Linked DNA regions of Homo sapiens. The protein of the gene in region 1 purifies or fractionates together with the protein of each later gene. This does not show direct contact. Each region holds a gene or a part of one and is shown on either strand. Other genes may lie near its edges.

The links.
Region 2: the proteins of SPTY2D1 (region 1) and MLYCD purify together in Homo sapiens (affinity purification with mass spectrometry; one large-scale study listed by BioGRID and IntAct). This does not show direct contact.

What each region holds. Positions count from the first base shown.
Region 1 is NC_000011.10:18,631,373-18,635,794, forward strand, and holds the start of SPTY2D1 (protein SPT2 homolog), read right to left. Parts: upstream 2,971-4,422; 5' UTR 2,886-2,970; coding exon 2,826-2,885; intron 1-2,825. UniProt on the Homo sapiens protein: Histone chaperone that stabilizes pre-existing histone tetramers and regulates replication-independent histone exchange on chromatin.
Region 2 is NC_000016.10:83,925,012-83,927,537, reverse strand, and holds the end of MLYCD (malonyl-CoA decarboxylase, mitochondrial), read right to left. Parts: 3' UTR 507-2,526; downstream 1-506. UniProt on the Homo sapiens protein: Catalyzes the conversion of malonyl-CoA to acetyl-CoA.

The DNA.
Region 1 (4,422 bases):
ATACCAGCCCTATCTCTACTAAAAATACAAAAAAATTAACTGGGCGTGGTGGTGCACCCCTGTATTCCCAGCTACTCAGGAGGCTGAGGCAGGAGAATGGCTTGAACCTGCGAGGCGGAGCTTGCAGTGAGCCAAGATTTCGCCACTGCACTCCAGCCTGGGCAACAGAGACTCCATCTCAAAAAAAAGAAAAGAAAAGAAAAAGCTTTATTTCTTTTAAAATAGATAACAAAAAAAAAAAAAAAACCACCAAACACTTTATTTCTTTTAAAATAGATGGCAAAAAAAGAAAAAAAGCTTTATTTCTTTTAAAATAGATGGAATAAATATGGGGAAATGTTAATATGCTAAATACGGGGTTTGGGTATATTAGAAATGTGTTAACATTCCTTATGTTTGAAAGTGTCCAAATTACTTTAAGCTGATAAGGAAAAAGTAAATAGAACAGTTAGATGAATCAAGTTAAAGCAAATCAAGTAAAGCATGAAATTTGGCCGGGTGTGGTGGCTCACACCTGTAATTTCAGCACTTTGGGAAGCCGAGGTGGGCGAATGACTTGAGGAAGGAGTTCAAGACCAGCCTGGCCAACATGGTGAAACCCTGTCTCTACCAAAAATACAAAAGTTAGCTTGATGTGGTGACAGGTGCCTGTAGTCCCAGTTACTCAAGAGGCTGAGACAGGAGAATTGCTTGAACTCAGCAGGTGGAGGCTGCAGTGAGCCGAGACCATGCCACTGCACTCCAGCCTCCAGCCCGGACGACAGAGTGAGACTCTATCTTAAAAAAAAAAAAAAAGAAGAAGAAGAAATTTAACTACAGTCTTATCCTATTCCTCAATAGTTTCTTTTGTGACTTTAATTCCACATAAAAAGATAAGAATTATAATGCTGGTAACTAAATCAAACTTCTAGGCTTACTAGCTTTGGCGGGGAGAGGTCAGAGAATGCATGATTCATAAAATATATGGCTATATTATCTATTGATTTTTTTTTTTTTGAAATGAAGTTTTTCTCTTGTTGCCCAGGCTGGAGTGCAATCGCACGATCTCAGCTCACTGCAATCTCCGCCTCCTGGGTTCAAGCAATTCTGTCTCAGCCTCCCAAGTAGCTGGGATTACAGGCGCACACCACCATGCCCGGCTAATTTTTGTATTTTTAGTAGAGATGGGGTTTCATCATATTTGTCAGGCTGGTCTCAAACTCCTGACTTCAGGTGATTCTCCCGCCTAGGCCTCCCAAAGTGCTGGGATTACAGGCCTGAGCCATTGCGCCCATCTATTAAATTTTAAATTACTTTTTTCCCCTTTTTGATTCTTCTGTTATTCCAATCATAGATAATGCATATATTATGACATATACACATATTTTGAAATTTTCTGCTTTAGGATTATCTGTCTGCTTTTCTCCCAGCAGCTACTGGCTTTCAGAATAAGAAATGACTTAGTTCTGATTCTTCCACAGAACAGTACTGGGCATCAAAGCTAGTACTATCTTTGACCTTTACTGAAATTCAATAAGATCTAGAATGAAATACAGACCAAATTATGCAAAGATGAATGGTTACTAGACCCAATATTGATTCATCTGGAAAATTTACAGATGCTTCTAGAAAGTAAATCTGTTGATCTGGGTTTCAAAGGTTTGAGTCTATACCTTCAACATGCAAAGCTTATGACTCACGGCTTAGAGGAATGGTTATTCAGAGTTCTTGGGATAAGGGATGGCTGTGTGTGTGTATATATACATATATTTATAAACATAAATATAGACCTTTTTCAGATCAATATTTTCAAAGGGATAAAAGAATGAACTAGCCTCAGAAGACAAAAAAAAGCTGCAGAAGAGAAAAAAACGAATATTGCAATATACGAATATCTAGGAAATGCAGAGCACTTCGTCGGAGCTCAATAAATTCTAGCTGAATTGACTTTGAGAGCCGTTTTAGTTCTATACCTCACTGCTCAAACCGCAGGCATCACCATGCAACTTATCGGTTTACAGCTGTGCTGTGGGTACCATCTGAAAATCTGGAAATGATTAGCTTATGCAAAACAGCCATAACCCCCAGAAACCAGGCGCTCTCCACCACTTTACCATTTAAGTCTTACACCGCTCTTGCGACTGTAAGCGAACTGACAAACATCTACTGACCAAATGGGACCTAGATTTTAAACAAAGACTGAAATCTGGAAGGCTACAAGTAAACAGAAGCTGAAACTAGCTCACCTATTCTGTTGGCCAAGGATTTCGTGGAATCTGCTAAACTTCTCTTCCCAAAAGATGATACCTATCCCCTGGGAGGTGATAATTTAATCACCTCGGTGGCTGAGTGGGTGGGGCCGAGTCAGAGAATTCTTTCAAGAAATCGCTAAACGTTTGACTTGAAGATCGATGAGAAGCCAGCCAAAAAGCTATCAAGCCAAGGACCCCAAACCCCCTAACTCCCTTACATACATATTTCCTTCCCAATCTCTAGGCTGAAGTTTATGTGGAAGCCAAAAACTACCAGCGCTAGAATCCACAGCGTGCCAGGCACAGCTCACTCACGGCTTTCACGCAATTCTAGCTACAACACCCAAACCGCAAAGTCCCTGTTGCAGGGGTAAATAAGCCGGCGAAACCCATTCACAGGAAGGCTCCCGCGTCTCGTCCCAAGCTCTTTTCTCCCGAGTTCCCAAGAGTATAAACCCAAGAAAAGGAAATAAGGCGTCCGGGTCTTTCCTCTCCCGGAGCCGATAGGCGGCTGCCCAGAAGTTCCATGGGCCACACACATTCCGAACTTGGAAGACTAGGGTCCCCTACATTGATGCCCCAGCTGCTACTTACCGGCACATTGTTGACACCTTGTCCCTTGGAAGCTATCATGAGAATTTCTCTGAAGTCCATGTTGGGCCGAGGCGGGAGAGACTGGGCCAGGCACTCGGAAAGGACTGACAGCGCACCTAACCGAGGCGCCCAGCTACAGCCAACTGCACTGCCTCGGGAGCCCCACTCCCACCCCGCCTCTGCGGGACCACTTCCGGCGCCTTCCTATGCCGTCTGCCCGCCCCCTTCCCTCCACGGCCTATATCCTTTCAGGGCCGCCACAGCGCTCGCGAGTCCCTGCGTAACTTCCGCTTTTAGGCCGAGACACGTACAAACGTGATACGTGGCTGCTGGCGTCGACCCGAGGGGCAGGGACTAGGCATTTTAGCAACCAAGGGGGTGTGGCTAAGCGAGAGAGCGGCTTCCCTGGTGGCCCGGGCGCGCGGTCTTGTCATCTTGTTGCTCCTTGTGAGCGCTGGGTAGAGAAAGTGAGGGGGTAGAGGGTTTACTTGCCAGGCCTGGGTTCTCTGGGTGTCACGGGTAGGCGCTTAGATCCAAAACGGCGGCGCCACAACAGCTGAACAGACGGATCTCGAGCCGGGGTTTGGGCTACTTGTGTCTAGGCGCTCGCGAAGCTGCGCAGGCGCACACAGCAGCGCCGTGGTCCTGTCTTGGATGCCCATTACTCATCAAATTCGGCCACATGCCGTGCGCTTACCTCCTACTCAGATGCACGCGTGCCGGGGATGGGGGCACGCGCTTACTTCTTTTGCCCCGTTTAGAAAGTAAGTTTTATGTGGAGCAGCCAACCTGTGTTTTTGCTCAGGCAATGGATTAAGGAATTTCACATACAGACCCAGCCTTGACATAACTTTGGTGTACTGATGAACATATGCTTCATATTCATATTCATTGGGATCCTAGTCCTGACTTCTTTTGGAGAGTTATCTTGGATCTGTAAGGTCATTTCGACTTAGCAAAAACACTGAAAATAATTAGGCAAACCTGGGTCTGCAAGTGGGAACCCGCCAGGGGATTGATAGCAAACAGGTACTCGGGATCTTTTCGGTGGGATGGAAATGCCTCCAAACTGGATTGTGGGGATGGTTGCACTATACATGTACTAAAAATCGTACACTTAAGACGGGTGAGAATGATACAGTATGTAAATATGTCAAGCTGTTAAAACATGCTAGACAGGCCGAGCGCGGTGGCTCACGCCTGTAATCCCAGCACTTTGGGAGGCCGAGGCGGGCGGATCACGAGGTCAGGAGATCGAGACCATCCCGGCTAAAACGGTGAAACCCCGTCTCTACTAAAAATACAAAAAATTAGCCGGGCGTAGTGGCGGGCGCCTGTAGTCCCAGCTACTTGGGAGGCTGAGGCAGGAGAATGGCGTGAACCCGGGAGGCGGAGCTTGCAGTGAGCCGAGATCCCGCCACTGCACTCCAGCCTGGGCGACAGAGCGAGACTCCGTCTCAAAAAAAAAAAACAAAAAACATGCTAGACAAAGCTGCTGGCTCTTACTCTTTGATGGTTTAATGCTGCGAACGTAATTCAAAATCAAAGCTGTTGGAACTTTAAGTTATTTTGCGCCTTAAAAGAATGTTATTATGGA
Region 2 (2,526 bases), on another chromosome or scaffold:
TATCTAACTGAAGTTTAATGCTGTTTTGTTTTTATATTACTTTTTACTTTTAGCTTCTACTTAATAAAAAAATCCAGCTTGTATTGATGGGAGGGATATAAAAAAATTGCGACAGTGCTCAGCAAATGACTGGTGTTTGGGACCCGTGGCCTCTAGATTTAGCGGAGTTTCGATCTGTGATCTGGGCTCCATGCCTGAGACAGAAAGTCATGCCCTCAGTCAGCCCGACTTGAGACCGATGTGAAGCGACTGGAGGGGGCCCTCTGGGACATTTGCAAATGACCACGCCCCTGCTGTACTGCAAACGACGACTGGGCAAGGAGGAGCTGACCACAGGAGGCTCGGACTGGGAGCCAGAAGATTCCCCCGGGGAAGCTTCAGAAAGCAGGAAGAGCAGCTGGTTTGGGCAGTCCCAAATGCCTGCTCTAGCTCTGAGTATCGTTACCTAATCCCTGTGAGAGAGTGGGGAGCGGCTGTGCAAGTTCCGAGTGCAGGTATGCTACCTGTTAGGATTTTATTTTTTTATTTTTATTTTTTTTTGAGACGTAGTCTCGCTCTGTCGCCAGGCTGGAGTGAGTGGCGCCATCTCGGCCAACTGCAACCTCCGCCTCCCGGATTCAAGCGATTCACCTGTTAGGAATTTTAACATTCAGCGCCCAAGCGCAGAGCAGAGGAGGCTGGAGGGGCGCAACACCGCCATCTCGCGGCGACGGGGTGCACAGCGCTTGCGAGGACCCAGACTGGGATCCATCTGTCCCAGAGACTCATTTTCAGCATCAAAGTGCGTCCCTGCGCTGTCCGTAAAGAGCCTGCCATGCGGCAGGTACCGCGCAGGACTCCAGACCTGCCTTATCTTTTGAGATCCCCACAGCCCCTGAAGGAAGGGACCACTAATATCAACATTCACAGGACGAAATCGGAGGTGTCCTTGTGTTCACAGCTGGGCAGCCCACCCAGCTCAAGGGGGGACTTGGGGAACGCTGTCTAGCCTGCGAGAGGTGGAAGTGGGCTCCTGAGAAGGGCGGCCGCGTGTGGCTTCACCGTCCCCTTTTGGGTTTAAAGGGAACTTCCCCGGATGGATTAGGTGTCACGGCAGCAGTGTGAGAATGGAAGCGCCCAAGCCCGTCCCCTCGGCCAGCCCCTTCAGCTCTCTGGGCCTCAGTGTCGTCACCCGTCAAACGGGGACAGGGACCCTCCTTCCCAGTGCAGGGTGGGGTCCGAGTGAGCTAGGGCAAGCCAGCGTTCAGTGCAGGGCAACTGGGGTCTGAGTCCTTGGGGAGCTGGGCTTGGAGAAAGTGAGATCTCGTGGGCTCTGGGAGGGAGGGCCTGTGCTCTGTTCCCACACAGCACCCCCAGCGGCAGGGCTCCTTGGGGAGGCCAGACCAGGGCCAGGCGTGGCCAGAAAGACCCTGCCTTTAAGGGGCTGTGGAACCCTGGGCAAGGAGTGTACCCAAGTAACCAGCGTGGCCCCAGGCCAGGGGTCCCCTCTGCAAGTGTCACATTGGAGGGGGCCCTGATGATCTTGCAGACCCTGCAGCCACCTCGGGCCAGAAGCGAAGCAGGGTCCCTGCCCTCAGAGAGCGTCTAGTCTAGTGGAGATACACACATGAAACTGCCTTGTTTAGAAGCTACCAGGAAGGAGAGGCCCCAGTGAGAAGACGGCAAATAAAGGGGGACTGTGACCTAGTCAAGCCACCAGGGAAATCTTCCTGAGGAGAGGACGATGGATGAACTTTGGAGGCAGAGTGGGCATTGCCTGGGAGGCAGGGAGGGGAGAGCGTTTCAAGAAGAGGGAGGAGCATGTGCCACGCAGGAAGGAGGGAGGACAGGGAGTCCCAGACTGAGGGAGGACAGTGCCAGGAGGGCCTGGAAAAGCAGAGGGGAGGGTCAGGCCACAGCAGGCTTGAGAGGCCACGGAGGGGGCTGTGTGTGACAGGGAGGGTGACGGGGATGGTGGGAGGTAGGAAAGGAGAGGAGAGATGGAACCTGATTTGCATTTCACAATGACAACTCTGCCTGCTGGGGTGGAGAAGGATCTGGAAGAGTCTGGCGTAGGCAGGTGGGCAGAGCACCTGCGAGGTTAGTTAATGCACATAATCAGGAAGGAGACTTTGTAACCTGGGCCAGGGAAATGAAGAGAACAAGGCCAGTGGTCTGTCCAGGGGCCCGGGGACGGGTGGGAGGTGGGGGTGAGGGGAGCCCCAGGGATGGCACCCAGGCTTCTGTGTTACACAGTTGGAGGTGGCCTCGCCAGGAAGGAACAGCTGGAGGAGGCCAGGTTTTGGAGGGAGGGCATCTGCATTCAGCCTTGGCCGTGCTGAGCCTGAGCTGCTGCTGAGCTATGCAGGGGAAACACACAGGTATGGGGTGTCTGTGTCACCAGTGAGGGGACTGTGCAAGTGACTGTCCTAACTGAACACTTCAGAGTGAAAAGAAGCTCTGTTAACAATGATGCCACACCAGGGCCCCAGACAGGGCCTGTCCCCGGCAAACAGGGGCACTAGTGCCCTTGCTATCGGTAGTTAG